Regions from separate parts of the Homo sapiens genome. Here regions 2 and 3 are each reported to be linked to region 1. Evidence: microRNA targets listed by miRTarBase, many of them from high-throughput screens and not tested one by one. Region 1 holds a microRNA gene; each other region holds the end of a gene's coding sequence.

Region 1 (8,036 bases):
CCATGACACTTCACCTCTCTCTGGGGGTTGCCACTCATGTTGTTTTCTACATGAATGGGGCCTCCTGGCATCGTGCCATGAGGCAGTCTAACATCTAGGTTGTGTAGTTTGAAAGAGACACACCAGATCTTGCCCCCAGGCTACATCTTAATATTAGAAATAGTTTTAGATTTTTAACTAACTGACTTTGACTCCGCCTGCCTTCTCGTTTTTCTAAATGTGTTTGTATACTTTCTGGCACCCCCTCCTTATCTGCCTCGTGTGGGCAGAGGTAAGAGAGGCTTAGTGTGGGGATATTCGTTATGATATTGTATCCAGTGCCTCTCCGGCCCAGGGAATACAAGGATCTGGAATGCATGGGCCTTGCCTTGATGGTCCCGAGCCTGGTCGAAGAGTCAGGAGATAGATATGGAAGGGTGAATCACTCCCTTGGAAGGCAGAGCAGGCCAGGTGCCCAAAGGGAGGCAGGCAGACAGCGTCTGAGTTCAGGGAGGAAGCGGATGGGAAATCTCTGGTGGGAGGTAGAATCTGATCCATCCTCCAAAGGATGGGCAGGATTTAAGTCAATACAGGCAACGGGGAGGAGAATATTCCCTGTGACCTAAGGTAAGGGTAGAACAAGGCAGGGGATGGGGTAGACTGGTTGGCTAGTGTTCTGGTTAGGATTAGGATTGATTGTGTATAAGAGAACATCTTCAAATGATAGGGGCTTAAGTAAGATCATTTATTTTTCTCTCTTTTCAAAGAAGTCTGGAAGTAGGTAGCCTGAGAGAGGTATGGAGGTTCCATGAAATTGTCAGAGATGCAGACACTTTCTAGCTCATTTCTTTGCCATCTCTTGGGTTTGGCTGTCATCTTCAGGAAACAAAAGGCTGCTAGAGCTCCAGCCATCTCATCCATGATTCAAGCAGTAGGGTGGAGAAAGGAGGTGGGGAAGAATGAATCTCCTTTTCTTTTAATGAAATGTGACATGGTCACACCTACACCTATTTACAAGAGAGGCTGAGAAATATAGTCATTCGGCCTTGGGGGAAGCATGGCTTTTCAAATCATAGAAACCTGGCAGCAAATACCTCTCTGTAAGCCTGGTGTGGAATACTTTCCTTGAGGGTTTGACCATCCCCTCCCATACCCAATCATACTCTTTTGCAATAGCTCAGTTGGGCCCTATGCAGTTCCATAAGTCCCAGTTATTTCAGCATTCTTCAAAGAGTCCATCTCTGCTGCATCCTGGGCTCTGTCAGCCACCCCACCATTCTCACATGGGCTCTTCTCAGAAACTTTAGGACCTGTTGAGGCTTCTCTCTCTCTATTTCTACCACCTCTCCAGGTATAAGTAAGTCTTATTATTATTATTGAGACAGAGTTTCACTCTTGTTGCCCAGGCTGGAGTTCAGTGGCGCCATCTTGGCTCACTGCAACCTCCGCTTCCCGGGTTCAAGCAATTCTCCTGCCTCAGCCTCCCGGGTAGCTGGGATTACAGGCATGCGCCACCACGCTTGGCTAATTTTTTGTATTTTTAGTAGAGACGGGCTTTCTCCATGTTGGTCAGGCTGGTCTCGAACTCCCGACCTCAGGTGATCCACCTGCCTCAGCCTCCCAAAGTGCTGAGATTACAAGCGTGAGCCACCATGCCTGGCCATCTTATTATTATTTAATGAGTCCAGACCTCTCTTCTGAATCCCAGACCTGTTTATCCAGCTGTCTCCTGGCCACTTCCCTTGGGATATCTAAGAGAGGCCCCCAAGTCACTAGGCCAGAGACAGTCCTTATCTTCCTCTGCCAATTCAACCCCTCTGTCACTTTCTAGTATTTTAGTGAATGCTGCTTCACCAGCCAGCAAGCCAAACATCTAGAGTCTGCCTTGACTTGACGCGTTTCCTTCTTTCTCTTCTCAGCATTGTCACGGGTCCCTCAGGCCACCCCATTGTTCCAATGCCTGTTGCCCACCTGTGGTCACGCTGCTTCCTCGTTTGTCAGAGGCGCCAGGGCAGCCTCCTAACTAGTTTGCCTGAACCCTTTCTTGCTCCTCTGTGACTCATTTTTCATATGGAATCCAGGCTGATATTTAAAAAAGCACAAACCTAATTATATCACTCCTCATTTTGAAACCTTTCAGAGGCCGTTCATTGGTCTTAATCTTCAGATGAAAATCTTTAACAAGGCCCATCGGAATCTACCTGAATGATCCACTCCTGCTTCTGTTAAGTCTCACCTCCCATCTCTCTTCCCCTCATCTTGGAATTTCAGCGTTTTCTCACGTCCTGAAATGTGAACTTCCCACTTCGGGAGTCTCTCCATTTCTCTTCTGATCTTTCATGCAGGACTATTTCTTGAACAACTCTCGTGTACCAGAGACTATTGCAGGTGCTAAGGTTACAAGAGTGAACAAGAGCTTATGTTTTACTGGACAAACCAGTCAGTAAACATGGAGAATTTGGGGGCAATGGTAAGAACTATATAAGACAGGGTAATGGGATAAAGAGGGATTGCAGTGGTGAAGGAAGGTCTCCTTGAGGAGTGGCCAGGAGCCAGCCATATGAACATCTCGGGGAGGTTCCATACAGAAGGACCGTCAAGTGCAAGATCGCTGGGGAGGGAAGGAGCTTGGCGTAGTTGAGGGACAGAGGGCAGGGCAGACTAGTGGGAACAGAGAGTGAGGGGTAAGTAGAATCACAGACCATCTCAAAGGTACCCCCCACCCCCACTAGGAAGGAGTTGGGTGCACATGGATGCATTTCTAATCTTTGTGATTTCCTTAGACCTGCTGTCTTCCACGGGTTTCTCAGTGGTCCATTTGATTCCAAGTTGGAGTGACAGTCCAGAAGCCTCTATAAGGCAGAATATATCAGAAATTGTACAAGGTAGAAATGCATCGGTATATTTTCAGTGATTATTTTGGGTGACGGGATTCTTATCACTTTGGCTGTTTTCTTTCTTTTGCTGCCTTACCTGTTTTCCTCATTGAGATCTTTTATTTTCACAATCAGAAAATAACTGTGAACATTTTATGTTAGAAAATTGGTTTTGAGTAGTAAGTAGGTTCCCTCTGCCTTGATTAAGAGAGTGGAGCCCTGGGGCATGGCACGCAGGGTCCATGGCGTCGCTTTGAATGAGGCCAGTTCCTGGAGCTTTAGTTTGCAAACTCATACAATCTGGAAGGCTCTGGTGAGGGGGAGGGGTGTGCCAAGCCTCCTCCCCAAGACCCTATGGGTGAGTTTAAAATCTACTGACCCAAAGGATTCAGGCAAAACATTTGCCCTGCTATTGAATGAACCAGTGCTTTTTGTTTTGAAGTCTCCAAGATCCAAATATCAAGTCCAAGTTCTCACAAGCATTCCCCTGCTTTTTGTTTAATTTGTGTGGACCTGACGTGTAGCAGAATGGGTCAGAATACTGGAATTAAGCCACAGGCGGCTTGGGAGCCCAAGAGCTAGAAGGGCACAGTCCTGGCTTGCCCTGGCCCCTGGCTGGTCTTCATCAGCTTCAGTGATGAGGCAGGACCCAGGCAGTTTGTCTTCAGTAAAATCTGTCTCTCAGGGCCTGTCCCTGCTCACAAAGTCCTCTCTTGTCTCAGAAGAAAAGGTAGTTGATAAACTTTTTCATGCTGAGGTGTTAGGCACAAAAAATGTGCCCCTTTTTGAATCACTTTTGTTTTTAAAAAGGAGGCCAGTGCTCAACACCAAAGCATGAAGGGAATTGTTGAGCTTTCCTGTAATCTGTCCCCAAACGTCCTTGGCCACCTCCATTGTCTAAGGGCAGTACCTGCAGCCCCTCATTTCCCAGTGACAACAGGTGGGTCTGCTCTGCCACAGTGTGTGGGCGGGACCAGCACCAGACGCTGAGAAGATGACCACTTACTACTCTTCTTTTCCATTTAAACAGCAGCAGCAGCAGCAGCAGCAGCAGCAGCAGCAGCAACAGCAAACTCATGACTATCAATAGGTTGTGTGAGGAATTAGATCAATGCTTTGGGTTGAAAATTAGAGAAACTAAATCTTGCCAGTCTCAGCAGCCCCCAACCTGAGCCCTTGGTGGTCTCCTATCATCGCTGTCTTCAAAACGATCCCAGACTTGTTTATCAATTTGGTGACACTGTCATTTTGGCAAGGACACCAGACAATTTCCTTGTCTGTGGCTCAGCTTTTGGCCAGATTTTAGAAAACACGGGAGACCTTCTGCATTTATGGGTTCATGTTTTACATTTTAAAATCTTCGTGGCTCCCTCAGCCAACCCATAATCTCTACCCAAGGAATGGCTCTGGATTTTACAGGCTCTTATGAGATGCTGAGACCCTGGTGGTACAAGGGAGGTACAGAGGACGGAATGTGTTGTCAACATGCCAGGATTTCAACCCTTAGGGTTTCTCTGATGCCAATACCCAGGAATTAGTATGAAATGTTTGTTTGAACCTGTGTCTGAACTGTATGACCTGGAATCTATAGTCTTTGCTTTAAAAAAACTTCAATTGTATCCCCAAGATTTCACCAGCACCAAGAAAACATCCCTTGCATTTCAGGAGCAGGGACTGGCCATGGTGCAGCCTGAGGTTGTGGATGTTGATCTTTGGTGCCCGAGAGAAGGCTGTCTGGGATGAAGCCTTCTGACTGTGGTCAGGTCCCTGCCAGTGCTGGGGGCCACATGAGTGTGCAGTCATCCACACACAAGTGGCCCCCAACACTGGCAGGGACCCGGAGTCATCTGGCCCATCCCTCCTTCCTATCCCATCGAGCCACAGACCCCTCTGCAATATGCCTACCACATGTTCATCCTACCACTGATGGGGAACTTATTACCTTCAAGAGAGCCTCTTTTGTTTTTGAAGAGCTAATAGTGAGATCCATTCATGTGTTCTTCAACTCTATTGAGCCTGTCCTATGTACTGGGCACTGTTCTAGAAATGGGGTGCACAGAGATGAACAAGAAAGAGCAGGTCCCTGCCATTGTGCAGCTCACAAGGAGTTGGAGGAAACAGGCAATACACAATACATGCATCACTATGGGTAGTGGAACATGCTCTGCAGGAAACAAATAGGGTGATCCAATGGAAAGTCATCACTGGAGGAATGAGCTGCTCAGGGAAGGCCTCTTCCTTCCATAGTGATGTGGTCTGAGATTTAGAAGACAGGGAAGGACCAGTTATAGGAAGAACCATGGGAAGAAAATTCTAGGAGGTAAAGGGAAGAACCAAGGCCCTGAGTTAGCTGAAGAAAGGAGGGTGGGGAATGCGGGAGAGAGGGATGGGAGCAGGATCGCTGGTGCCTCACAGGCTGTGGTACTGAGAAGGACAGTTGGGACATCATTGAAGGGTTTTAAGCAGAAGAGTGTCATGATTTGATTCATGTTTTGTAAGCTCATTCTGGCTGTTGAGAATGAATTCTGGGGAGAGGCAAGAGTGGAAACTGGGGACCAGTGAGGAGTTTGTGGTCATAGTCCAGACTGGACATGATGATGACACTGAGATGACAATGATGACAATGACAATGATGTTAAGAATACAAACAGCTCACGTAAGTGCCAGGCATTCTTTGAAAAGCAATGCATTTAATCCTCACAAGAACTCTAGGAGGTAGCTGGTGGCTTAGCTAGGGAGGGGAAGTAGAGAAGAAAACAGGTCTCATGACAGGGTTTGCTGATGGGTTAGATGTAGGGAGTTAGGGAAGAATGATTCTAGATGACTCTACGTTTTGGGCTTGAGCAACTGGTGTGTAACTGAATCTTGGACTGAGATGGGGAGACTGGAGGAGGAACAGAAGATTTGCGGGAAGGTGTAGAAATCAGGATTTATATTTTGACCATCAGAGAGGTCAGCAAATCACTTCAATTTAGAAGTCTTTGGCTTAGGGGAGAGGTCTGGGCTGGAAATTCAAAGTCAAGAGTCATTCCTCTATACCGAAGGGTATTCAATGTTGTGGTGCTGAATACAGTTACTTGGGGAGGAGTTGAGAGCAGAAGGCAGAAAAGGGGAACAGGGTTCAGAGCTAAGTCTTGGGCATGCCAGGGGTTAACGAGGGTACAGGAAGGAGAGGAGACTGGGGATGAACAGCCAGTGATGAGGGAGGAATGCCAGGAGATATTGTCACTTAAGAAATTACCTCGGCTGGGCGCGGTGGCTCACGCCTATAATCCCAGCACTTTGGGAGGCTGAGGCGGGCGGATTACAAGGTCAGGAGATTGAGACCATCCTGGCTAACACGGTGAAACCCTGTCTCTACTAAAAATACAAAACAAAATTAGCCGGGCGTGGTGGCCGGTGCCTGTAGTCCCAGCTACTCGGGAGGCTGAGGCAGGAGAATGGCGTGAACCCGGGAGGCGGAGCTTGCAGTGAGCCGAGATCGCACCACTGCACGCCAGCCTGAGCGACAGAGTGAGACTCCGTCTCAAAAAAAGAAATTACCTTGTTAAACCCAACACTGCCCCTCTTTTGTCCATTCACTTCTAGTTGCCTTCATTCATGCCTGATGTGCTGGACTTGGGTTTTATCAAGTTGCTTGGCACGTCCTTAAAGAATTTAAATCTCCACAGTGCCTCCTGGACAATGACTGCAGGGTGACCCCCGTCTCTCCTCTACACGATGACTCTTCAAACAGTTGACGATTGCAGTTTTTCTTTCCTTCCTTCTTTCAGTGGCTTCTCTGGTGCTGGTCCCAGCTGCATAAGCAGGGCCTCTTCTTGCCCTTCTGAAGTTTGGTCAGTGGTTTGGCTTGGCAGGCTGATGAGCAGAGAATAAGGGAAGCCGCTCTCTCTTTGCCACACCATTCTCCTTCCACCCTCTCTAGTTTTTGTGGATTCTAAGTCTGAAGAATGGTGGTAGAATAATTTAATTCATTAGATTGCAAGCATATCATTGACTTCTCTGCACCCCCAGTGTGTTGTAGTGGAAAAACTAGTAGTCTGGGCATCAGGGAATCCTTGTTTTTCTGCACCGGGTCTGCCTGTAACAAATTAGGTAACCTGGGGCAGGTACCCTGGTTTCCTAAAAGCAGAGCAGGCATTGAGGTAGGACCTGAAGTTGAGGTAGGACCTGCACATTGCATGGGTCCCGGAGCCTCTGTTCATGTTCAGGATGTAATTGTGGCATCGAGGGATCCTAAAAGGAGGTGGCCTCTGAGCTGGGCCTTGGCAATGGGGTAGAATTGCAGTAGGCAGAGGGAGCAGAGATGGGTTTTGTGCTTGTAAACGGGCATTGGTTTACTGTCACTGGTGGGGGTAGCAGCTCTTTTGTTCTAGCTCTTCATTTCCATAATGCGTGTTCTTTTTTCATACTTTAGGGGAAAGAAGGAGGAGAACTCTATTATTTCTATGGGGAGAATTCCTCCTAAACCTGAAGATCTTAAAACTAAGCGAATTATTCCCTGTTCATTCTCCACTGATGCAGTTCATGACTGCAATTGCAACTGCCTTTCCCGTCATTTTCTATGGCCAAACTCAGTGTTTTTAAGTGAGCTCTTCTTTTAAAAAACAAAAACAAAAACAAGTCTCCTGATAAATCCGTTTGAAAGACACTAAGTTTTGAAAGTTAAGCAGGCTTTGATCATTCATGGTACATTGTGAATTACCAAGGAGGGAGATTGATATCCTTCATCGTACAATGCACTCCCCTCCTTTTTCTTTTGTATCTGGTGGAGTAAGTCTTCCAAGAGCAATTCTTAGAGAAACAAAGCCTACTCTGTTTCCCTGTTTCTAGAGTTTTCCAACAAGGGTATAAAAAAGCCTCAGACAGCTTACTATTATCCAGTAACCTCAGGTACCTCAGTGGCTGCGTGTTATTCCCTTTAGAAGTCCAAAAACTCACTAGCAGAGCAAGAATATGGATGTCAAAGTGCAGAACTAGACCCTGACAAACTAGCTCTGTGCCTGCCACAAAGCCTCTTAATTAGGAATGCAGTTCATTGAATAACTGTATCAAAGTTAGCTGGAATACCTTGACATGAAGATTCCTTCCACTTACTGAGCAGTTTGTGCCCACTAGTGGCCAGACACAGGCTTTGCTCTAGCTAAAATACCCCCAGGATTACCTGTTGAGAGAGCCGCC
Region 2 (8,036 bases), not on the chromosome of region 1:
AGAAAGATAGAGCTTCCACTGGGTCCTCACATCGTGGCCTCCTTCTCTACCTGCAGCCCCTGCCCCACCCCCACTGTCAGTGCGAGTCCTGGGCAGCTCCTCCTTGCAGCTGCTGTGGGAGCCTTGGCCCCGGCTGGCCCAGCACGAGGGCGGCTTCAAGCTGTTTTACCGCCCAGCAAGCAAGACCTCCTTCACCGGCCCCATCCTGCTGCCTGGAACCGTCTCCTCCTACAACCTCAGCCAGCTCGGTGAGGCAGACACAGCCCAGAGCCTAGGGGGCTTGGCAGAGTGCGGCGCTGAGGGCCAGGAGGTGGCGTACAGGGGTCACCTCCCTTTCCTGGCTAGGACAGGGCACGTGGTTGGGCAGGGGCAGTTGCTCATCCGCCCTGCCTTCCTCCAGACCCCACTGCAGTGTATGAGGTGAAGCTGCTCGCCTACAACCAGCATGGAGATGGCAATGCCACAGTCCGCTTTGTGTCTTTGAGGGGAGCATCTGAGAGGACAGGTGAGGGCTGGGGATGGAGTGCGGGGCTGAGTGGGTGGGAAGCCGGGAAAGTAATGGGGTGAGATAGCATGTGCCACGCTTGAAAACACAGGCTTAGACCACAGTTTGAAGCTTGGCCATGCACATGCTGGCTGTGTGACCTTGGTCAAGTTACTTAACCTCTCTGATCCCAGTTTTCTCTATAATACAGGGATAATAGTACCTACTTTACAAAGCTGTGGCAAGGATGAAATGGTCCATGCTATTCCTAGTATCTGGTAAAAAGAACCAAAAAGATTGGTCTGGAGTCCTGTAGGCAAAGTCAAAGGATGTTCCCACTCCCACTTGGGAGTGGGAGCAGCTGAAGGAAGAGGAGTCCCCAGAGGCTGGGTGTTTGGGAGTGCTTCAGACCTGGAGAGCCAAAGCCTCCAACCCGTCCCTGTCCCCAGCCTTGAGCCCACCATGTGACTGCCGGAAGGAGGAGGCCGCCAACCAGACGTCCACCACAGGCATCGTCATCGGCATCCACATCGGGGTCACTTGCATCATCTTCTGTGTCCTCTTCCTCCTGTTCGGCCAAAGGGGCAGGTGGGTCCTGGGCCAGGGAGAGGGGCTGGGCTGGTGTGTGGGGGACTAGGCCTAGAGAAGGTGAGTGTGGGCTCACTGCCTCTGTCTCTTTTCTCTCTCCCTCCCCCCAACTCTTGGCTAACCCTTAGGGTCCTCCTGTGTAAAGATGTGGAAAACCAGCTGTCCCCTCCACAGGGTCCCCGGAGCCAGAGGGACCCTGGCATTCTAGCCCTAAATGGGGCGAGACGGGGACAGCGGGGCCAGCTGGGCCGAGACGAGAAACGTGTGGATATGAAGGAGCTGGAGCAGCTGTTCCCCCCGGCCAGCGCAGCAGGGCAGCCGGACCCCAGACCCACAGTGAGTGCCCATGTCTTAAACAAACCCCCGCCTCAGGCTCTGACACTGCCACCTTCCAATCCTGCCCCCCTTCACCTTGGCCACGGGCCTCGATCATTGGCCTTAGTCAAACTGCAGGTCTTCTCTTTGTGTCCCTGAGTCAGGCAGGGAGACCTGGAGACCCTAAGGCCCAAGTGGGGTGAGTTGGAGCCTGGCGCCCTGGCCCTCAAGCTGACGCCTGTGTGACGGGCTCTTTCCCCAGCAGGATCCTGCAGCCCCCGCTCCGTGTGAGGAGACCCAGCTCTCCGTGCTGCCACTTCAGGGGTGCGGCCTGATGGAGGGGAAGACGACGGAGGCGAAGACCACAGAGGCCACGGCTCCCTGCGCCGGCCTGGCGGCTGCCCCACCACCCCCAGATGGAGGCCCTGGCCTCCTCAGTGAAGGCCAGGCTTCCAGGCCTGCAGCGGCCCGGGTTACCCAGCCAGCTCACTCGGAACAGTAGCCAGTGTCTGGCAGGCTCCAGAGGGTGGACGGAGCGGGGCCCATTCTCAGGTCAAAAGCAAGATTTCTACTGTCATGTGGGATTTGGATGGTCCTGGGGGCTCCCCAGCATTTCTATCCTGACTGCCTCTTGGGTTGTCAAAACCCAAGGCAGCCTTGACAGGGACCCCCCGGCCCTAACACCCATCAGGAGTTGGAGCAGTTCCTGCAGGAGCCTGTTCCTTCCCTGGGCTGACGCCCCCTTGCCTCTGCCTGGTACCCACATGACTTGGAACTGAACTAACATTTTTCTTTAAAAAGCAAAACTTAAAAAAAAAAAAAAAGAGGAGAGAGATAGAGGAAGGTGAATTAGACTCCAAAAGATGACCCTGCTGTAGCTGGGCCCTGACACTGTCACCCTCCACCGACTTTGTTTTCTCAGGATGGATTTTTGCTGTTTTGGCTCTCAGCACCTACCTCAGCCGGAATGAATGTCCTGGGGGGCAGTGGGGCGGTGGCCTCAGCCCCCTTACCCCACAGAGCCCGAATGCACTCCTACCTCAAGTCCCCTTGCTGGGGACCCCCTCTCCCTTCCCACACTGTTGTCCAGAGTAAAAAAAAAAAAAAAAAAAAAAGCACTTCCCCGTTTCCAGGTGTGAAAGAAAAAAAAAAGCACTTCCCCATTTCCAGATGTGAAAGAAAATGTCTACCTCAAGGCTCGCTGGCTCTGTGGGCTGTGTTGTCACTGGACCTGCCTCCCCGCCCCTCCTGCCCACAGCCCACCTACCTCTCCTGCAGAGGAGAGGCCAGAGGTTGGGCCACCAAGGGGAACTCTTGTGGCCTACAGAAATAGAAATGGATTGGGCAGAGAAAAAATGTGAAAGCAGCCAAAAATGAGAGGAAATTTGTTCCTTGAAGTATAAATTGTCCAAACGAGCCACCTCCCAGCACACCGCCTGTCCCCGTCTTGTCTGTCCACTCCCATTTTGAGCCAGCCCATCCTTGATGGGGATGCCCATGAGGAACCTGGGCTTGGGAGGGTGGCATCAGCTGGCCGCCTGCCTCCTGTCCTGCAGGCCCGGCCCCTGGAATGTACCATGTGTGGGATGGGTGTGTGGGAGGGTGAGGGGGTGTGGGTGTCCCCTGCAGAGGCGCCCCAGCCTCAGGCACCCAGCCAGCCTGATCCACCCCTCGACAGGGGAGCATCCACTGTCAGCAGCCATGGCCGGAAGCTATTTTTATACAAGGTGTGTTAAGGGTTATGTTCTTGTGACTTTTTGTTACTCTTTTCTGTTGTGTTGTTCTTTGAACTACTTAGTTAAAGAAGAAGAAAAGAAAACCAAGGAAACAAATACCTATTTTTGGTTATACTCAGAAACATTTTTTTAAATAGCAGAAGAAAAACTTTTTTTAAAGAAAAAAGATAAGTGTATTCCTTAAGAATGAGACCATAAATATCCCTGACCCCCAATCCTCTAGGGACACCTCCACCCTGAACTTTAGTTAATTAGCTGAAGAAGATAGAATTTGTGGTGTTTTCCTAGAAAACTAGAGCTGTGTCCGCGTGGACTTGGGGAAGGGTAGTCCCTTCCCTTCTCCCAAATGATGTGTGGATGCCCAGGGCTCCACAAAGCTCCAAGGCAGTGCCCCCTCTGTTCCCAAAGCAGCTTCTCTCGGGAGCCTCCCTCTCCCTTGGGAAGGGTGCGGCTGGGGCAGGAGGGGGCTGGGGGGCCACCTGGCCTTACTTGGGTTTTGTCACACTCTGCTCATTTTGACTGAATAAAAGTCCTGTTGCCAAAGTGAACCTGGAGTTTTTGGGTGGTTGTGTCAGGTCCTGGGGGAGGGGCTGCGGTGCTGGGTGGGCCAGGGCCCTCACAGGCCCAGAACCTGGGATAGTAACAGCAGACCCTATACACTACAGCTCTCTGCCACATGAGGTGCAGTTCCTGAGTCCTCACCCCTCCCTGTGACTAAGATATGCTAGTGACCGTCATCTCCATTTTATTTATTTTTTTGAGACAGTTTTTTACTCTGTTGCCAAGGCTGGAGTGCAATGGCACAATCTCAGCTCAACCACAACCTCTGCCTCCTGGGTTCAAGTAATTCTCCTGCCTCAGCCTCCTGAGTAGCTGGGATTACAGGAGTGCGCCACCACACCCAGCTAATTTTTGTATTTTTGGTAGAGACAAGGTTTCGCTATGTTAGCCAGGCTGGTCTCTAACTTCCGATCTCAAGCAATCTGCTCATCTCAGCCTCCCAAAGCGGTGAGATTACAGGCATGAGCCACCGTGCCTGGCTGGTCATCTCCATTTTATAGTTGATGAAACCAAGAAAAAAGAGGTGAAGGAAATGTCCACAATCCCACACAGGCAGTTGGTCAGTCTGATCCTCACACAGGATCCGAGTCTGTATCCAGGCCAGGCTGCCAGGTTCCAGGCTCTGCATTCTGACCACCGCCCCACCCCTCCTCGGCCAGCAGCGAGGCGGCTGCTCGCTCAGCCCGCCAAGGTTAAGCGCTCTCCAGGTGCTGGCCAGGCAGGGCTGTGTGCTTTTCACGCACTGTCTATGAGGAAGGACTGGTTTCCTCCCGGTTCTGAAGCTGAGGAAACAGGCTGTGACTGAGTGATTCCCTCCAGGGCACTCAGCCAGGACTCCGGCCAGGCCTCTCTGTTCTGCCATTGTCTCTCAGTCCAGGCTCCTGAAGCCAGTTGCCTGGAGCTGCTATGGCTTAGGTTCGAGAGAGGCTGGGCTTAATGGCAGTTATGCTGACAAAGATCCGAAGGTCTCAGCTGGCCTCAAGCTTAGTAAGAGGCAGCAGTATAATGCAGCTACTGCTGAATTTGAAAGCCTGGGTTCACACCCAGGAGGCTCAGCAGACCTGGAAAGCCAGGTTCTAAACCCAGGGGCACCTTTCGAGAGGAACGTACCAGGAGAGCAGTGGGTAAATTGGGCTCCCTGGCTATGGCTGGGGTGAGGGGGAGCTCTCTGGAGGGCCTCCTCACTCTCCCTACCCACCCTCACCCAGACCAGCTCAATATTTTTTCCCATATTTTTTCTGTCTTATTACATGTTGGCTTTTTTTTTTTTTTTTTTTTTTTTTAATTTGAGACAGAGTCTCACTTTGTCGCCCAGCCTGGAGTGCAGTAGTGCGATCTCGGCTAACTGCAACCTCCGCCTCCCAAGTTCAAGCAATTCTCCTGCCTCAGCCTCCCGAGTAGCTGGGATTATAGGCACCAACCACCATACCTGGCTAATGTTTTGTAGTTTTGGTAGAGACAGGGTTTTGCCTTGTTGGCCAGGCTGGTCTCAAACTCCTGACCTCAGGTGATCCACCTCCCTCAGCCTCCCAAAGTGCTGGGATTACAGGCGTGAGCCACTGTGCCGAGCCCATGTTGGATTCTTGATGAAATTTCACTTGAAAGCAGGATTGTGATCCTAAAAGAACATCTGAAGGTACCTGGCCAGGCACTTCCAGAAGAGGCCTGTGGATAGCTGGGCCCGAGGTCAGGTCAGGACCAGTGACGGTGCTAGGGATGCTGAACCAGGCAAGAGAGCGCTGAGGCCTATAGGGCGCCTATCCTGAATCTCCAGGGAGGTTGCTGACTTTCCCTGATTATCCCAGGAAAGAACTATCTCAAATATAGATATAAAACTCTTTCTTTACACGGCACTTTGCACACATAGATGTTTTAACAACTTCAGCCATCCAAGGGCAGCCTGGGGAGGTGATTGTTCAAGTCAACCCTGTGGGGTTGGGGGAGTAGACAAGTAACATCCAGTGCCCCTGTCCCTTCTAAGAGTCCCAGATGGGAGGTGTCTGGAAATGTTTAGAAACCACAAAATGGGCCAGGCGCAGTGGCTCACGCCTATAATTCCAGCACCTTGGGAGGTCAAGGTGGGCAGATCACCTGAGGTCAGGAATTCGAGACCAGCCTGGCCAACATGGAGAAACCCCCGTCTCTACTAAAACTACAAAAATTAGCCAGGCGTGGTAGTGCATGCCTGCAATCCCAGCTACTCGGGAGGCTGAGGCAGTAGAACTGCTTGAATCGGGGAGGCAGAGGCTGCAGTGAGCTGAGATCATGCCACTGCACTCCAGCCTGGGTGACAGAACGAGACTCTGTCTCAAAAAAAAACAAAACAACAACAACAAAAAACCCCACGAAAATAAGGCTGGGTGCAGTGGCTCACGCGTATAATCCCAGCATTTTGGGAGGCCGAGGCGGGTGATCACCTGAGGTCAGGAGTTCAAGACCAGCCTGGCCAACATGGGGAAACCCCATCTCTATTAAAAAATACAAAAATTACCCAGGCATGGTGGTGCCTGCCTGTAATCCCAGCTACTCGGGAGGCTGAGGTGGGAGAGTTGCTTAAACCTGGGAGGTGGAGGTTGCAGTGAGCCGAGATCACGACACTTCACTTCAGCCTGGGCAACAGAGCAAGACTCTGTCAAAAAAAAAAATAAAAATCCACCAAAATATGATCATGCAGATATATGCAAATTGTATACAAAACACAAACAAATGTAGGCAGGGCCTGCCCTAACCATCACAAGTCTCAGCCAGGCTTGGGTAGATGACAGAGCAGGGTTCCAGTGAGGAAGGTTAGCAGAAATAGGTGTCAAAGCTGAGTGGCCTGACTGGAATCCAGGTCCTGAGATCTCAAATAGCCCAGAGGCCTCAGGCTGAAGAACCCCGTCAAACCTCACTGTCCCCCACAAACTATCTTTGGGCAGAAATCTGCCACAACCAAGGCTGCAACCTGTTCCAATCATCTAAGGCTCTGTAACAAACAACCCTAAACCTTTTTTTTTTCTTTGAGACGGAGTCTTTCTCTGTCACCCAGGCTGTAGTGCAATGGCATGATTTCTGCTCATTGCAACCTCTGCCTCCCGGGTTCAAGCAATTCTTGTGCCTCAGCCTCCCGAGTAACTGGGATTACAGGCCCACACCACCACACCAGGCTAATTTTTTGTATTTTTAGTAGAGATGCGCTTTTGCCATGTTGCCCAGGCTGGTCTGGAACTTCTGAGCTCAGATAATCTGCCTGCCTCGGCCTTCCAAAATGCTGGGATTACAGGCGTAAGACATCACGCCTGGCAATTTTTTTTTTTTTTTTTTGAGACCAAGTCTCACCCTGTCACCCAGGTTGGAGTGCAGTGGCGTGATCTCCACTCACTGCAACCTCCCCCTCCCAGGTTCAAGCGATTCTCCTGCCTCAGCCTTCTGAGTAGCTGGGATTATAAGCACCACCATGCCCAGATAATTTTTTGTATTTTTAGTAGAGACGGGGTCTCACTGTTTTAGCCAGGATGGTCTCGATCTCCTGACCTCGTGATCCACCTGCCTCGGCCTCCCAAGGTGCTGGGATTACAGGTATGAGCCACCATGCCCGGCCTTTTTTTTTTTTTTTTTTTTTTTTTTTTAAGAGACAGGGTCTCACTGTGTTGCCCAGGCTGGAGTGCCGTCAAACCTTGGTGGTTTCACATCACATTTATTTGGCTTACAAATATGCAGTCTGGGCAGGGCTCAGGGGCAGCTGTCTCTGCTCCACTCTGCATCAGCGTGGGCAGCTTGAAGCCTGGGGGCTGGGATCCCCTGAAGGCTCCCTCCCTCCCGCGTCTGGTGGCTGATGCTGGCTGTGAGCCCAGCACCTCCACATGGCCTCTCCGTGTGGCCTGGGCTTCCTCACAGCATAGTGGCTGGGTTCCAAAGACAAGCGTCCTGAGAGAGAGAGCCAGGTGGAAACTGCAACATCATTTCTACGCCGGCCCAAGTGACACAGCATCACTTCTGCTATAGTCAGCTCTTTAGAACAAGTCGCTAAGGCAAGCCACATTCAGGGAATTCAAGGGGAATTAAAGTCTTCTTTTCAATGGAGAGTCAAAGAATGTATGGACTGTTTTAAAATGACCACAGGGGCCGGGTGCAGTGGCTCACCCGCCGGGGAGAATTACTTGAGCCCAGGAGGTGAAAGTAGCAGTGAGCCGAGATCATGCCACTGCACTCCAGCTTGGACTATAGAGTGAGACTCCATCTCAAATAAATAGATAAATAAATAAATAAAATGACCACAGGGCCACTCCGGAGGGACAGGTGGGGAACAAATATGAGCCAGGAGGCAGGGAGGGGAGGAAAGCTTTACCCCATGGCCCTGGGACTGTGCATGA
Region 3 (8,036 bases), not on the chromosome of region 1:
ACAAGGGGAGAATGGATTTATGAGATATTTACTGGACAGAATTAATATAACTTGATAAAAGATATAATAAGGATAATAGATGTAGAGATCCAGAGAAGGAGAAGTTTAAGATGACTTTTACTTCACCATTCACCAAGATTGGGAATATAGGAAGAATAGTTGCTGTTGAAGTTTGAGATGCCTGTATGATAGCTGTGTGGAAATTTCCATTAGGTTGTTGGACTCATAAGACAGGAGTTCAGGGGTGAGAACTGATTTAGGTTATACATTTGAGTTGTCAGCCTCAGGCAGCAGTTGAAGCCATAGGTTTAAATGAGTCACCTAGTGAGAGGATTCAGGTTGAGACAATGGTGGGCTGAGGACAGAACATAGTATGTTTAAAGGTCAGGATTTAATAAGTCCACAGAAGAGCCTGAGAAGAAACCAAAGAGATAGTAGGAGATCTGAGTAGTGTTGTCACAGAAGCAAAAAATTGTTTGTTGATAGGAAAAGAAATAGTGAAGCATTAAATGCTACTGAGAGATTGACCAAAAGAACTGGAAAGGTCACCCATTTCAGTTGTTTATTAGGTTATTGACCCTGCTGAAAGCCATTTTGCTAGAATGGTTTGGGGAAAAGCTAGATTACTTTGAGTTGAGAAGTGTGCATGAGAGTGAATGATGAGTATTGACAACTCTGTTTATCACCCTGACTATGAGGAAGAGGAAGAGAGGTATATGGCAGCTAGAAGGGGAAGTAGAATGGAGAGGGACTTATGATAGGAAAAACCTTAGGTATTTTTTAATGCCAAAGAGACAAGTCCAGTGGATAAGGACTCATTGAAGATACACAGTGATGATTGATGGAACAGCATCCTTAAGATGGTAGGAAAAGTTGGACTCTACAGCAAACATGGGATGAAGTGACTAGTATTAGAAGGGAGGAATTTACCTTTTCCTTAAGAGATGGTAGGAAAGAAAGCATAGAATTCTATTTTTACGTTAGAATTGTGATACAGTTTGTGTATCACAGTTAGAACTGTGATACAGTTGCATTTATTTCTTTGTCCAAATAATTTAGAAGCACATAAAAATTTGTAATTCTAATAACGATTCTTTATTAGAAATCATCTTATATTTAATGAATTTTAGTAACTTCCATTTGACCATGCATGGTTTTTCTATTTGATTTATGCCCTCTTACCAAAATTGGTGACCAGCTAAAAATTCATAATGTATTTAACGTGATCTTTGAGAATCATAACTGTTTTAACATCCTTTGTTTTGACAGTCCAAAGCAGCATATGTACTCTTCTACCAGAGACAAGACACTTTCAGTGGAACTGGCTTTTTTCCTCTTGACCGAGAAACTAAAGGTGCTTCAGCTGCCACTGGCATCCCATTAGAAAGTGATGAAGATAGCAATGATAATGACAATGATATAGAAAATGAAAACTGTATGCACACTAACTAATGAAAGTCCTAGAAGCCATAAAAGAGACACTTTCCTGCTGGTGGTATCTATGGAAATGATGAAGTTACCCACCACATTAAAACAAAAGTCTGAGATGGGGAGTTTCAGATAACCGAATGTAAATCCTTTATCAGATTTTAACTTGTGCAGTACTTGAAGTGAAACACAATGAAAACTTTAACAGAAATTGTCTCTTAATACATTTACAGTCTTGTATTTACAAGCTAAATATATATAGGAAATCACAAATAAATCCCTTTTAAGTTTGCTGCTGTTTTGATTAATTATGTTTCCTTTAATTTTTTGGATGTGAGTTGATGACAAATGTTAAATTTGTGGATGTTGGTCATTTATTTTGCTCTAATAATACTGCAAGAAAACTATGGCTGAACTTAGTTTTTGGATAATCTAGTTCATGTGCATTAGGCTGCCGTATATACTACTATGATATTTAGCTGCAGTATCAATGTGGCATAAATACTGCGGCAGCATTCTTCGAAAACCGCATTTTCAAATTTATCCCCGTAATCAATGTGGGCCTATTAAAAAACCAAATCATGATACAAGAAACAACCTTGGAAAAGTTATTTCCCTTTGTAATACCTTTAAAAATCCAGAGTATTATATTCATTTTACTGCCACTGTGGAAACAGGTTCTAGATTTCATACTCCATCTAAAGTCATTTTTCAGTTACATGTAAGTATTATTTACTGCTATTGGGATCTATTCTTCAGATATTCAAAAACATTTTTTGCTTTAAAATGCATATCTTTAATTGGGTGTTGGTCCAAAATTAAAATTTTTGCTGTCTGTTTTTCTCTACCCCATTTTGTGGTAATTTGGCAACTTGAGCTCTCCCAATTATTGTAATATAAGGACAGACATAATAGTATTCTGTACCCATAGTAATAATTGCATCAAGCTTAGATGAGAAATTTTTTTCATATACTGGCCTTTAAATCATTAATGGACAATTGGCTATAAAGGTAGGTCTGTTAACTTTCTTTGTGTGTTCCTGATGGAATTCACCATAGCCTTACAGCTTTTCTCAGAAGGTAACTTGTTATAAGAGAAATGGCATTTGCATGTTCCAGAGTCAGAACCTGTACAGTATATAAAGCATAAACACCTTGAATTTGATTTTAGTTCACCACATTCAAGGATCCAGGATGCCAAAAATATGTGTGAACATTTGAAACATTTTTATTTGCTGCTTTTTCCCTTTGATATAGTTGAAAGAATGTATTGTAAATTGGCATACAATACTGCCTTTAATAGAAAACCTAAATGCTGGGGCACATTTCACATATCGACTACCTGAGAAATTGCTTTGTGTCCCACTGTTATTAAAGCAAAAAGTATAATGTTCTTCACTTGAACTAATCAAATACAATAGATTATAAATTGTGTATTGTAAATAAAAGTTCACTCTGTGAGTGCACATTTTGGTAAATTATTTATTTATGTTAGCATTTAAAAGTTTAAAAAAAATGCATTTGACCAGGATAAATGAGGTATGTTGATCATGGCTTTGCTTTATATCTTGATATTAAAGCTGGTTTATCATCCTGGTATTTTAAAAGCTGCTTTGGGGTTTTTTTTTTCTTTTTTTTTTTTTTAATGTAAACTAACCTCCTGCATGACAGAGGTTAAAATTTTGTCTGCACTTGAGTTCACTTGAGTTTACATTTGAAATGTGCATGTTTATTTATATAGATTTCAATAAAGCTATTCAAGGCCTTATTTAGTCTTTTATTTCTTACTCTTAATCTTTTAATAAAAATCCCCTACTTTATGGTTAGATGACTATATGCTAGACTTTTTAGTTATAAATAGTTAATACTAGAAAGGAAATTATGTCAGAGCAAAATGAATCCTACTATTAAGGACGTTTTAAAGTTGATTTTTGTCCACTTTAATATTTATTCATTAAACATATGTTTGTGTACCAATCACTGTTGTAGAGTCTGGAGATACAGCAGTAAACAAATATCCTTACCTTCACAGAGCTTACATTCTTTCTGCCATCTACCAACTAATGAACTATATTTCCATTTTTCTGAAGATTTAAAGAAAAGTCAAAGCTAAATCTTTTAAACCTATATTGTGGTCTCCATCCTAATTCTTCAGAGACCACTTTCTTTTTAATGCCTGTCATTAACTTCTGTTCCCACTAAAAGAAGTGATGTTAATAATGCCATTGAAACTGCCAAACTCAAATGTCATTTTTCAGCTGCAAGAAGTATACTTTAAAAATAGTGCAAAAGGATAATACATATTCTAATTAAAAGTAGGCATTCAGACTGGGCACGGTGGTTCATGCCTGTAATCCCAGCACTTTGGGAGACTCAGGCGGGAGGATCACTTGAGCCCAGGAGTTTGAGACCAGCCTGAGTAACATAGTGAGAACCTCATCTGTACAAATATATGTATTTTTTTTTAATTAGCTGGGTGTGCACACACCTGTGTTCCCAGCTACTGGGGAGGCTGAGGTGAGAGAATTGCTTGAGCCCAGGCAGTCAAGGCCGCAGTTAGCCGAAATCACACCCCTGCACTCCAGCCTGTGCAACATAGCAAGACTCTGTCTCAAAAAAAAAAAAGATATTCATAGGTAATACAGGGTAATGGGAATATATCTAGACTAGAATTTCTACTTCTAGCTTTGCCACTTAGCAATCATATGACTTTGAACTTAATCTTTGATAGTGTTTCTTTACCTGTAGAATAATGATGATAATAGCCAGCATTTATTGAGCACTTACTATGGACCAGGCACTATATTAAAGTGTTTATATGCATTCTCTCATTTAATCCCACAACAGCTATGAGGTAGGGATAGTTGTCATCCCCATTTTTCATATGAAGAAACCAAGATACAAAGCATTTAAGTAATATTCCCAAGCTCACACAATTGCTATGGGGTAGAGCCAATATTCTATCCTCAGATATATACTACCTCTCACTGTGTTATAGTGTCTGCCTCATAGGATTGTTGAGAGCTCAAATGAGATCATGTATTTTATGGGAAGAGCTTTGTAAACTTTATTACACACTCACTGATTTCTTCAGTCTAAATAGAAAGACATCTTGAAGTCTAATAACTTTGCTTCTAAAAGTATATTTAGCTCAGTATTCGAGCATTGAATAAGAAAGTACCCACTGGAATATTGACTAACCCATTCCCTTTTAAAAATTAATTTCATTTAATTTATATACCTTTATTACAATTTTAATTAAATGGTAAATACAATGTGACATTTTTTTCTTACCTTTTCATCTAACTTGTGTCCCCTTCTTTCCATTTCCCCAAATGCAACCCTGAATTTCAGGACTTTGTAAACTCTACTCTAGTTTTGCTTTCTGTTTGTTTGTTTGTTTGTTTAGAGACAAGGTCTCCCTCTGTCGCCCAGGCTGGAGTGCAGTGACATAATCATAGTTCACTGTAACCTTGAACTCCTGGGTTAAAGTGATCCTCCTGCCTCAGCCTTATAATTTAGTTTTAATTAACCTCCTTGAAAAAGTTGCAGCCTGGTGCTTTATTTAAATATCTTGCTTTCTCATAATCTGTGTTATTTTAGTAGTCCTGTATTTATCCTTGCTTTCCTGACAACTGGATATAAAACTACACAAAACATTGATTTGGGCACAAAGAAAATCAGTAAGTACCAAAATAGATACAACATAAAGGTGGTGGGGTTTTTTATGAACTAATTTGATTGAAGTGAGTTTATCTTATAAAATAAGCCGGGAGACTGAAATGGAGTCTCCTTCAGTGGTACACCAAAGGGAGTGTAGGGTGTAGTAGGAGCTCTCTGCCTCCGAGAGGAGGAATATATTAGACTGATAACGTTTAAGTCTGATGTATGGTGACAAGAAAAAGGCCAATTTTTTGTTTTGTTATTTTTAAGTTACCTACAGATAATGCATTTCATTATTGCCTACTTCCAACTCTCCCTATGTAGTATGTTTCTGATCTTCTGTGCTTGTGCAGTGTAGATGAGCTCACCGCTTTAATTTTTAAGATAGAAATGTGGAAAACTCTTGAATCATAGACTAGGGGAAGGAACCAGAGGTCCTCTAAAATATCAGAGGAGTGAGAAGGAAAGGAAGAGCTCCTTTCTAGGGCCATAGAATAAGAGTAGAAGTTTTTGCTCATTTTTTTTGTTTGTTTTTACTTTACAAAAAAATAAAAAATTTTTTGCTCTTTGAATAACTTAACATGAGGAATTTGGAAACAACCTCTCTTGAAAATATATTGGTATTCATTCCCAAATAATTCTTCTAAGTACCACTTGACCAGAGGATAGGGAAAGGAGGAAAAGGTGAGTGTATTTATATCCTTGCTAGTTTTTGTTATATATTCAGTTGCAGATCTATATTATATATCATTTTATTATCAGATTTTCTAGTGAGAAATATATATGATGGTTTTTTAATAATCATTTTAGGTTTGGAGGCCATTTCAATTCAATATGTATGTGTTTTACGTGTTTAATTCGTATTTACTATATATTAAAAGAATTTCCAAATAGCTCAGATAAGAAAACTTTGGTTTAAAATTGAGTTATTTTATAAGCTACATAGAATACATCAAAATTTTATAAGCTGCATAGAATAGGCTTTAAAATATCAGAATTAGGAAAATAAAATATAGATGGTAAAAATTCAAATATTTATCAAGACTTTTTTCTTCACTAATGATGGGGTAAAGAATTTTTAAATGGATAATATAAAACAGACAGTTCAAAAATTATTTTTGGAAAATATATGCATCGGGAAACATACCCCACACGGTGCCATGGTTTAATTATTCCCCAGCTCTACTTTTGGGAGCCTGGAACTTGTCAGGGTTGTGAAATAGATCTCAGACTATTAAGGACATTCAGAAACTGGCTAAGCCATTCAAGGAAAATCAGGAATTTACGTAATATATTGGACTACAGTCTCAAAGGACAGAGAGAAAATCAGTCAAATGGGTTTTGATATTTTTTTTTCCTAGAAATGTGTAGCAAATGTGATTTTACAAAGCAGCTAAAAATACAACTATCTCTCTGGAATTGAAAATGTGTAAAATAAGACCACACACTTTCAATATGCACAAAATATATTTTAAATGTTTAAGTTGTATTGGTAATTTACTATGTTCTCCTGTAGAAAATCATAATTAAAGTTGGTGCTCGTGTTGCTAAAGTTTTTTTTCTCATGTCAGGAACTTGCAGCTTGTTCTATATAGTTTGGTGAAACAAACAAAACAGTTTTTATCTGCTGTGACATTTAAGTTTGTTGTTAGCTGGAGTTAAATCTACATACATAAAAGTAAAACAATAAATATGGAAACATCCCAACAGTCTTTCCCACAATGTGTATTATTACATTATTCTCAGTAATGACACATACTTAACATTTCCCAAGCTGTTGTTTTAAACCTTAAACATCACCACATTTCTAATTTTTATTTAAAATCTTTCAGAATTCTTAGATTTTGTAACATATCAAGCACAAGTCTCTCATTAAAATTTTTTTTTAATAGTATTTGCTTTTCTTTTAAACTCCATAAAGGAGTATTCGATGTTAACAGACGTAACTCTTTAATGCTCCTCTGTTCATGATTAAGTATGCTAAGTTTTAAGTAATTTAGACTAATGTATTAAAGTGTTCACTTATGTCTAGTCATATGCATACCTACTCTCTTCTAACCTTGAGTCATTTCTATTAAATACAGCATTTAATCTTCTTTCAAGTGAGAACCATCTTTCCATTATATCAAGTGGGCAATATTTAAATTGTCTGATAAGTTCATCCAAATTAATCCCATCATGCCTGTTTAACTCATTTCCCCAAAAAGACCGCGACCTCCAGCCAGTCATTCAGTTCTTGAACTCCCTAATAGAAGCACCAAGGATTATCTATTTGTAATCACATTGTGGTGAATTATCAGTCTCCCAAGAATTATGTAAAGCAAATAGGAATTATTTTAGAGTTGCCCTTATTTTAAAAAACAAAAAAAAAGTAAAGATGGGAAAATTACTTATAGTATTTTTTTTTAATTTGAGAAAGAATTCCTGTAGGTCTCCCTTAAATAGTGACTTTGGTAAAGCTTTTTAATTTCTAGAACTCAGAGCTATATTCACTTTTGAGCTATGTACCTATTGTATAAGTTGAAGTAATACTGCAAATTCAAACAGTAAACATCATTAATCCTAGATATTTGGGTACTACCTACAGTGAGATATGGTAGGAAACATTCTACACTTACAACAACTTCCACCATAGCTAGCTCCAAACAGGTCATTAACCTCTGAATTACTGTTTTCACAACCATAAAATTATGCTGGTCTCTTGAAAGTATTAGTTTATGGGTGTGGAGAGGAAGGCTTAAATTTCATTTTTGAAGCTGTCGTTAAAAGTATATATTTTTAGCAAAGGAATTAATAACTAATAGCATTGATGAGTCAAGTTAATATTTGTTTTTGTTTTTTTTTTTTTTTAATTTTGGGCCTCACTCCTATAAAAGACTTGGAACAGAAGTCTTAGTATGATGGTAAACTTGAAAATTAAAATTTTATCAGGGATATTAGAATCC

The links. Region 1 holds the annotated microRNA hsa-miR-4731-5p (UGCUGGGGGCCACAUGAGUGUG, at 4,630-4,651, shown strand). A microRNA usually pairs through its seed, bases 2 to 8, with sites in the 3' UTR of a target mRNA and lowers its output. Matches are read on the target gene's strand: a 7mer-m8 pairs with bases 2 to 8, a 7mer-A1 pairs with bases 2 to 7 and ends in A, and an 8mer does both.
Region 2: the mRNA of IGDCC3 is a reported target of hsa-miR-4731-5p. Seed matches in the 3' UTR shown: 8mer at 1,992-1,999, 7mer-A1 at 2,811-2,817 and 7mer-m8 at 3,022-3,028.
Region 3: the mRNA of USP15 is a reported target of hsa-miR-4731-5p. Seed matches in the 3' UTR shown: 7mer-A1 at 3,784-3,790 and 7mer-m8 at 6,266-6,272.

The regions. Positions count from the first base shown.
Region 1 is chr17:15,248,281-15,256,316 of GRCh38, reverse strand. MIR4731 (microRNA 4731) reads left to right here and starts at 4,621; the gene lies at 4,621-4,690. All of the region lies in intron 3 of PMP22 (peripheral myelin protein 22), which reads left to right.
Region 2 is chr15:65,322,762-65,330,797 of GRCh38, reverse strand. It overlaps IGDCC3 (immunoglobulin superfamily DCC subclass member 3), which reads left to right. Exons shown (of 14, transcript NM_004884.4): 10 at 57-248; 11 at 401-505; 12 at 934-1,072; 13 at 1,201-1,408; 14 at 1,650-3,671. The coding sequence ends at 1,889. Among named protein-coding and RNA genes, the nearest start is that of RNU5B-1, 22 kb to the right of the region's middle. RefSeq lists an enhancer at 4,420-4,963.
Region 3 is chr12:62,402,924-62,410,959 of GRCh38, forward strand. USP15 (ubiquitin specific peptidase 15) reads left to right here. Exons shown (of 22, transcript NM_001252078.2): 22 at 1,270-8,036. The coding sequence ends at 1,452. Among named protein-coding and RNA genes, the nearest start is that of MON2, 60 kb to the right of the region's middle.